Homo sapiens: one gene and its partner. The protein of the gene in region 2 interacts with the protein of the main gene of each other region in a pairwise test. Each region holds a gene or a part of one and is shown on either strand. Other genes may lie near its edges.

Region 1 (3,749 bases), on a different chromosome or scaffold from region 2:
ATTTTATCTATAATAGCAAAAAAAAAAAAAAAAAAAGGCGGGGGGAGAATCACCTACATGTCCAGTGGGAAGGGGGTGGCTAGATACTTGATACTGTATGAACTTAATGGAATGCTCTGTATATGGAATGCCAGGGGATGGGAAGAGAAGAGAAAAATCGCTTTGTTTTATTTTTTGGGATGGAGTCTCGCTATGTCGCTCGGGATGGAGTCTCGCTATGTCGCTCAGGCTGGAGTGCAGTAGCACCGTACTGGCTCACTGCAACCTCCACCTCCTGAGTTCAAGCGAATTTCCTGCTTCAGCCTCCGAAGTAGCTGAGATTACCGGCGCATGTCACCACACCCAGCAAATTTTTGTATTTTTATTGGAGATGGGGTTTCATCATGTTGGCCAGGCTGTTCTCAAACTCCTGATGACAAGTGATCTGCCTGTCTTGGCCTCCCAAAGTTCTGGAATTACCAGCAGGTGTGAGCCACCGCGCCCGGCCTTTTTTTTTTTTTTTTTTTTTTTTTTTTTTTTAAGCAAGCCCCCAACACCATAGAAAATTCTTGATTTGCTCGGAGGATAATTGGATGAAGGATTATTTTCTTCTTTGTTTATGTGCAAGAAATGAAAATAAGGAATTGCTTTGATCAGACAACTTCTTATCTTTGTGGTAGAAACAGAACTGCCCTTCTTGGAGTGGCTCTGCCTCTGAGATCACTACAGGGGAGACAGCATGCCCTGTTCAGCTGGCTGAATATTTGGCAACAATCTCCTGAAGCAGCTGGAATTGACAAGAAGTACTGGAGATTAGCTCGGGCCAAACCCTTACATCTGGCCTGACTACTGCTGCAGTCTGCCTCAACTTACCCCTAAAGCTGGGGAGATGCCACCCACCCACATCTTTGCTACACATGCCATCATGAGCTAGAGTTCACCCTTTCTCCTTAAAGCCCTATTTACTTTTCTACTTCAACTTTAAAACAAAATTAAAATGTGAGGATATCCCTGAATTTTAAAAAGCATGAAGTAAAAATGCAAATTAGTATAGTTTGTTTAATACATTACATATAGACCTAAAGAAAGTTCATCAGGGTTAATCATTTGTCACATCATTCTATACCCAGGGCTATCAGCTATCAATTTTCCTTTTTTTTTTTTTTTTAATTCAGGATCCAGCTCTGTCACCCAGGCTGGAGTGCAGTATCAAAGTATCATTTCTCTTACTTCAAATTATTACATTTTATTCTGTACATTGATTCTGAACTCCTAATATAATATTTATGTCCTGTATTTGCAGGCCATTGGTTTTTTTAAAGTCATAAATCAAAATGATGCCAGAAAATCAAAGATGCCCAAGATGTTGGGCTTCTCTTTTGCCAGCCACATTGGTAGCACTCTCCTGCCCTGGCCTCCAAGCTGGTGGGGATCTGTGATGTTTGTGAAAATGGGCTTATGCCAGGCGCAGTGGCTCACGCCTATAATCCCAGCACTTTGGGAGGCCGAGGCGGGCAGATCGGTTCAGGTCAGGAGATCGAGACCAGCCTGGCCAACATGGTGAAACCCCATCTCTACTAAAAATACAAAAAATTAGCCAGGTGTGGTGGCACATGCCTGTAATCCCAGCTACTCAGGAGGCTGAGGCAGGAGAATCACTTGAAACCTGGGAGGCGGAGGTTGCAGTGAGCAGAGATCGTGCCATTACACTCCAGCCTGGGCTACAGAGTGAGACTCTGTGTCAAAAAAAAAAAAGAAAGAAAATGGGCTTGTGTGGTAGCAGGTAAGAAATTGAATCTCTGTTGTACAGCAGCTAGCTGTACTGCATGATCACTTCCCATTCCCCAGCTGACAGTGGCTGTCTCTGGAACTCCTACCACAGTCTTCAATTGGTAGGCCAGCCCTGGTGCCAGTGATTTTATCTGGGCATGGAAAATGCCACTTGCTTCTGTGGAAGAGACACTTAAAAGATCTGGCAGTCGGCCGGGTGCGGTGGCTCACGCCTATAATCCCAACACTCTGGGAGGTCAAGGCAGGCGGATCACGAGGTCAGGAGATGGAGACCATCCTGGCTAACACGGTGAAACCCTGTCTCTACTAAAAAAAAAAATAAAAAATTAGCTGGGCGAGGTGGCGGGCGCCTGTAGTCCCAGCTACTCTGGAGGCTGAGGCAGGAGAATGGCGTGAACCCAGGAGGCGGAGCTTGCAGTGATCCGAGATCACACCACTGCACTGCAGTCTGGGCAACAGAGCGAGACTCCATCTCAAAAAAAAAAAAAAAAAAAAAAGATCTCGCAATCATCCTGTCAAGCTTGATTCCTCCGATCTTGGGCCAAGGGCCCCTCCTTTCTTTTGTGCTACTGAAATAGAAGCAAACCTGTGTTTAGAGTTCCCTTTTCTGTCTCATTTACCTGCATCTCTCATTGATTGGTCTTAGTGGAGGGATTTGCCAGCAGCTGCCACGTTGAACTTGATCCTTTTAGTGGCTCACTAATCCCACCTCTATTCTGGATTGTAGCTAGTCCTGCATGTTTATGGCACTATAGGTTTCAAAGCTCTTTCATACCCATTTATTCACTTGATAATTTTTCTCTTGTGTGTTTCAACCCAAAGTAATCAAGTAGATCCCTTCACATTGTCTTTTCTAAGGCAGTCCAGTACCTCTTAGGTGGCTGTGTGTCAGAAGGAACTTTTTCCTCTTGATTACTTTCTGCTCAAAGCTGAACATCACTTTGCTGGTTGGATGCAAGTGCCATGCGACCTCTCTTTTTATTTCCTTGAGGACTTGTTAGCTAATTTTCTCTCACTGCTAGATTAAGGGCTCCTGTTTCTGAAGCATCTTACCAGAAGTGTGTGTCTCTTGCTTGAGCCATGCCTCTTGCCCTAGAGTGATCCTGAGAACCACTGCTATTTATGTCTTAGTGCTGTATTGCCTTGTATTTCCTTCTCAGTTACATGGACACAGAACAGTATGAAGAAGCAGTACGAGACTATGAAAAAGTATACCAGACAGAGAAAACAAAAGGTAAGTTTAAAAGCATTTGTTTTTTAGGGAACTGTGTGGACTTCGTAGGCCATAAATCTGTACACAAGGTAGTTTGATTCAGGGATCAGGGATCTACCTAGAACTTATTTGATCACCAGCCAGAAAGAAGTGAACAAAGGCTGGGCGTGGTGGCTCACGCCTGTAATCCCCAGCACTTTGGGAGGCTGAGGCAGGCAGATCACCTGAGATCAGGAGTTGGAGACCAGACTGGCCAACATGGTGAAACCCCATCTCTACTGAAAATACAAAAAATTGTGGGTATGGTGGTATACGCCTGTAATCCCAGCCACTCAGGAGGCTGGGGCACGAGAATTCCTTGAACCCAGGAGGCGGAGGTTGCAGTGAGCTAAGATTGCGCGACTATACTCCAGCCTGGGTGACGGAGCGAGACTTCATCTCAAAAACAAAAACAAAAAAAAGAAAAAAAAAGTGAACAGATATCTTGGGTTGGGGCATGAGGCACCTATTTTCTGGTTCCAGATCCTCCCTGTCGTTTTCATTTCATTTTTTGTGTGGTGAGGCTAAAGTGAGGAACCTAAGTCTGGGTAGATTTTCTTTTTTCTTTTTCTTTTTTTTTTTTTTAAGATGGAGTCCTGCTCTGTCACCCAGGCTGGAGTGCAATGGCATGATCATAGCTCACTACAACCTTTGCCTCCCAGGTTCAAACAATTATCCTGCCTCAGCCTCCCGAATAACTGGGATTACAGGCACATGGTACCACGCC
Region 2 (3,749 bases):
AATGTGGAAGCCCAATGAGCAGGGAATAGGAAATTTACACAGTAGCTCAAATCCTGCACAATCCCAATCCTGCAGGACAACGATCACAGCATCTTAGCACTGGAAGGGTTCCCATTCATCATCCAACGCAGCCCCCTCCCCAGTGCAGAACCCTCATGACAGTCACCCTAGAGTCATCCACACTGCCCTACATACTTCCAATGACAAAATGCTCTCTGCCTTTCGGGGTAGCCTATTCCATCAATGGATAACTATTTTTAGCAAGTTTTTAATTTAGTCAAAAAGTGATACCTTTCTAATGTGTGGCTGTCATGCTAATTCTAATTCTGAACCAAGTAGCCACTCAATAAACGTTGAATGAATAAATAATGAATTCATGAACAAATAGATTCTTAAGGATCCATTGACATTTAGTGTAACAATAGTAATTACTTGAAAATCTACGTGGTTTTTTGTTTGTTTGTTTTTTTGACGGAGTCTCTCTCTGTAGCCCAGGCTGGAGTGCAGTGACATGATCTTGGCTCACTGCAACCTCTGCCTCCCAGGTTCAAGCGATTCTCCAGCCTCAGCCTCCCAAGTAGCTGGGATTACAGGCACACGCCACCATGCTCAGCTGATTTTTGTATTTTAAGTAGAGATGGGTTTCTGCCATGTTGGCCAGGATGGTCTCGAACTCCTGACCTCAGGTCATCTGCCCACCTTGGCCTCCCAAACTGCTGGAATTACAGGCATGAGCCACTGCGCCTGGCTGAAAATCTAAGTTTTTAAGAGCCATCATAGCTCAAAAAAAAGGGATTCAGTTCAATTCATTTAATGTATCTTAAGCAGGGATGAATTATACAGAACTATGAAATGAAACACAACTTAATGAAAACAGTTCTAAGTAAAAGAAGAGGAGCCAGGTTCTAACAATCACTCTGCTGCTGTTTCTCACTTTTCTCACCTGTAAAAGAAGAAGGCCAGATTACATGATCTCTACTGCCACTTACAACATTCAATACTGTACAATAAATATATGATTTATCTTCAGAGATTGCCATTCCTCACCTCGAGGAGTTTACTGTCTTATTTGCATTTCTCTGAGAGTTCAAACTTTGAACTCTGAAAATAAACGGTAAATGTCCACCCATGACAGGCAAATGTTGTGGCTTAACAGGTAGAATTTTATCCACATTTTTTTATGATGAGCAAGCACAAGGCCACGTGGCTGGAAAATTAACCTGAAGTTGACATGAGAAAAATAATGTGGGGCTACTTATTTCAATCACAGTCATGCATCACTTATTGACAGGGACACTTTCTGAGAAATGTGTCATTAGGTCATTTTGTCATGCAAACACCATAGAGTGTACTCACAAAAACCTAGATGGTATAGGCTATGACACACCTAAGCTATATTGTATAGCTACTGTTCCTAGGCTACAAACCTGTGCAGCATGTTACTGTACTGAATACTGTAGGCAGCCGTAACACAATGGTAAGTACTTTTCCATCTAAACATATCTAAACATAGACAAGGTACAGTAAAAATACACTATAAAAGATGAAAAATGGTACACCTCTATAGGAGGCTTATCATGCATGGAGCTTGCAGGACTGGAAGTTGCTCTGGGTGAGTCAGTGAGTGAGTGGTGAGTGCACGTGAGGGTTGAGGACATAATTTCATGCTACTGTATTTATAAACGCTGTACACTTAGGCTATACTAAATTCATTTAAATTTTTTTCTCAACAATAAATTATCTTTAGCGTACCATAACTTTTTTTACTTTATATATAATAATTTTTAAATTTTTTTAATTTTTTGACTTTTTTATAAAAACACAGCTTAAAACACAAATACATTGTGCAGCTGTACAAAAATATTTTTTCTTTATATCCTTATTATCCTATAAGCTCCTATTTTTAATTTTTATTTTTTTACTTTTCAAACTTTTTGTTAAAAACTAAGACACAAACACACACACTAGCCTGGGCCTACCCAGGGTCAGGATCATCACTATCCCTGCCTTCCACCTCCACACCTTGTCCCGTTGGAAGGCCTTCAAGGCAAAAACACGCATGGAGCCATCATCTCCTATGACAACAATGCCTTCTTCTGATACCTCCTGAAGGACCTGCCTGAGGCGGGTTTACAGTTAACTTTTTTTTACTAAGTAGAAGTACACAAAATAACATTAAAATGTATAGTAAATACTAGGCATTAGGAAATTGACAGCCCAGTATAATCTTATGGGACCACTCTCACATATGTGACATTGACAAAACGTCATTATGCGAGGCATGACTGCACTTATTTTGAGACTATGTCTCTGCATACATAGTTCTCAGTAGCATCATTTGTTAAATAAGGATGCCGACATCTTACCTGCCAGAACACAAGGAGTTTAGCCAACTGGTGTTTTGAAGCTTCATCTGACAATAAGTTCTGTGATTCTGTTTATAAGTCTGTGACGAGTGACCCGAGTGACTGGAGGGAGCCCCATAATGTCTAGCATCCATTTCTGAGTCATGACAAAAAGCCAAAGGGGAAATGGGGCAGGGAAAGGAAGCAGATACAGGACCAGTAGTCATATAAGGGGCTGTGCACACCATGTGAGCCCCTGCCTACCTTCTACAGCTAAATGTCAGTATTTCATTCATTGCCCAGCCACAGTTCTCCCTTCCTGCTTCTACTTGGTGTGAACATTTGAAAGCTCATTGCAAAGTCTTCGCTCAAGAGAAACAGCTGGTGAACTCTGGTTTTGAAAGAAAAAATGGATTCTGAACGGCTAAAGCATCTGGAATTTTAAAAATTACATGATTGTTGCACAGAAGTCATTCGCTAAGGAATTTTTACCACAAAGTCATTAAAGTTAGGAACTAACAACGGAAGACTCCTCGAGGCTAAAAGTCTTATATTACTAAACGGTGCTGACTGAAAAATGGCTCTTCACCGGTGGTTCCAGCTGTGCCAGGAGGGGACCCTCCTCAACCCAGGGTGGCTGCCAAGGGAATCTCTGGAAACAGTGGGCTCTGCTTGGATTCATGAGAACACAGCATATAAACTCAATTACCATCATTATTATCAAAAGAATGATTCTGGCCAGGTGCAATGGTTCACATCTGTAATCCTGGTACTTTGGGAGGTCGAGGCAGAAGTTGCTTGAGGCTCAAGGTCAATCTGGCCAAAATAAGGAGACCCCATCTTTTTTAATTAAAAAAAGAAAAAAAAAGAATGATTCTAATTCTGGTCTAATGACCCTAACCTAAAATATTACCTTTTTTTGTACTCAGAAACTTTGTGTGCTGGTCTTTAAATCTTGTTTAAAGGGCCCGGCGCAGTGGCTCATGCCTGTAATCCCAGCACTTTGGGAGGCTGAGGCGGGCAGATTACAAGGTCAGGAGATCGAGACCATGCTGATCAACATGGTGAAACCCTGTCTGTATTAAAAATACAAAAATTAGCTGGATGTGGTGGTGGGCGCCTGTAATCCCACTACTCGAGAGGCTGAGGCAGGAGAATCGCTTGAACCCAGGAGGCAGAGGTTGCAGTGAGCCGAGATCGTGCCACTGCACTCCAGCCTGGCGACAGAACGAGACTCCGTCTCAAAAAATATATATATTGTTTAAAGGTCACCATTGTACCCTCTCTTTGCTCTGAAGGTCCTGCATCAAACTTTAACCAAAACCACAATAAAATTCAAATATCAACAATTTAGTCTCTAATCCTTCTCCAATCAAAATTTTTAGATTTTAAAAAAAGAAAAAG

Evidence for each region.
Region 1: the proteins of DISC1 (region 2) and DNAJC7 interact in binary tests that used the Homo sapiens proteins (3 or more experiments, as listed by UniProt).

The regions. Positions count from the first base shown.
Region 1 is NC_000017.11:41,982,818-41,986,566, reverse strand, and holds part of DNAJC7 (dnaJ homolog subfamily C member 7), read left to right. Parts: intron 1-659; exon of another isoform or gene 660-2,930; coding exon 2,931-3,004; intron 3,005-3,749. UniProt on the Homo sapiens protein: Acts as a co-chaperone regulating the molecular chaperones HSP70 and HSP90 in folding of steroid receptors, such as the glucocorticoid receptor and the progesterone receptor.
Region 2 is NC_000001.11:231,629,790-231,633,538, reverse strand, and holds part of DISC1 (disrupted in schizophrenia 1 protein), read right to left. Parts: intron 1-3,749. UniProt on the Homo sapiens protein: Involved in the regulation of multiple aspects of embryonic and adult neurogenesis. Required for neural progenitor proliferation in the ventrical/subventrical zone during embryonic brain development and in the adult dentate gyrus of the hippocampus.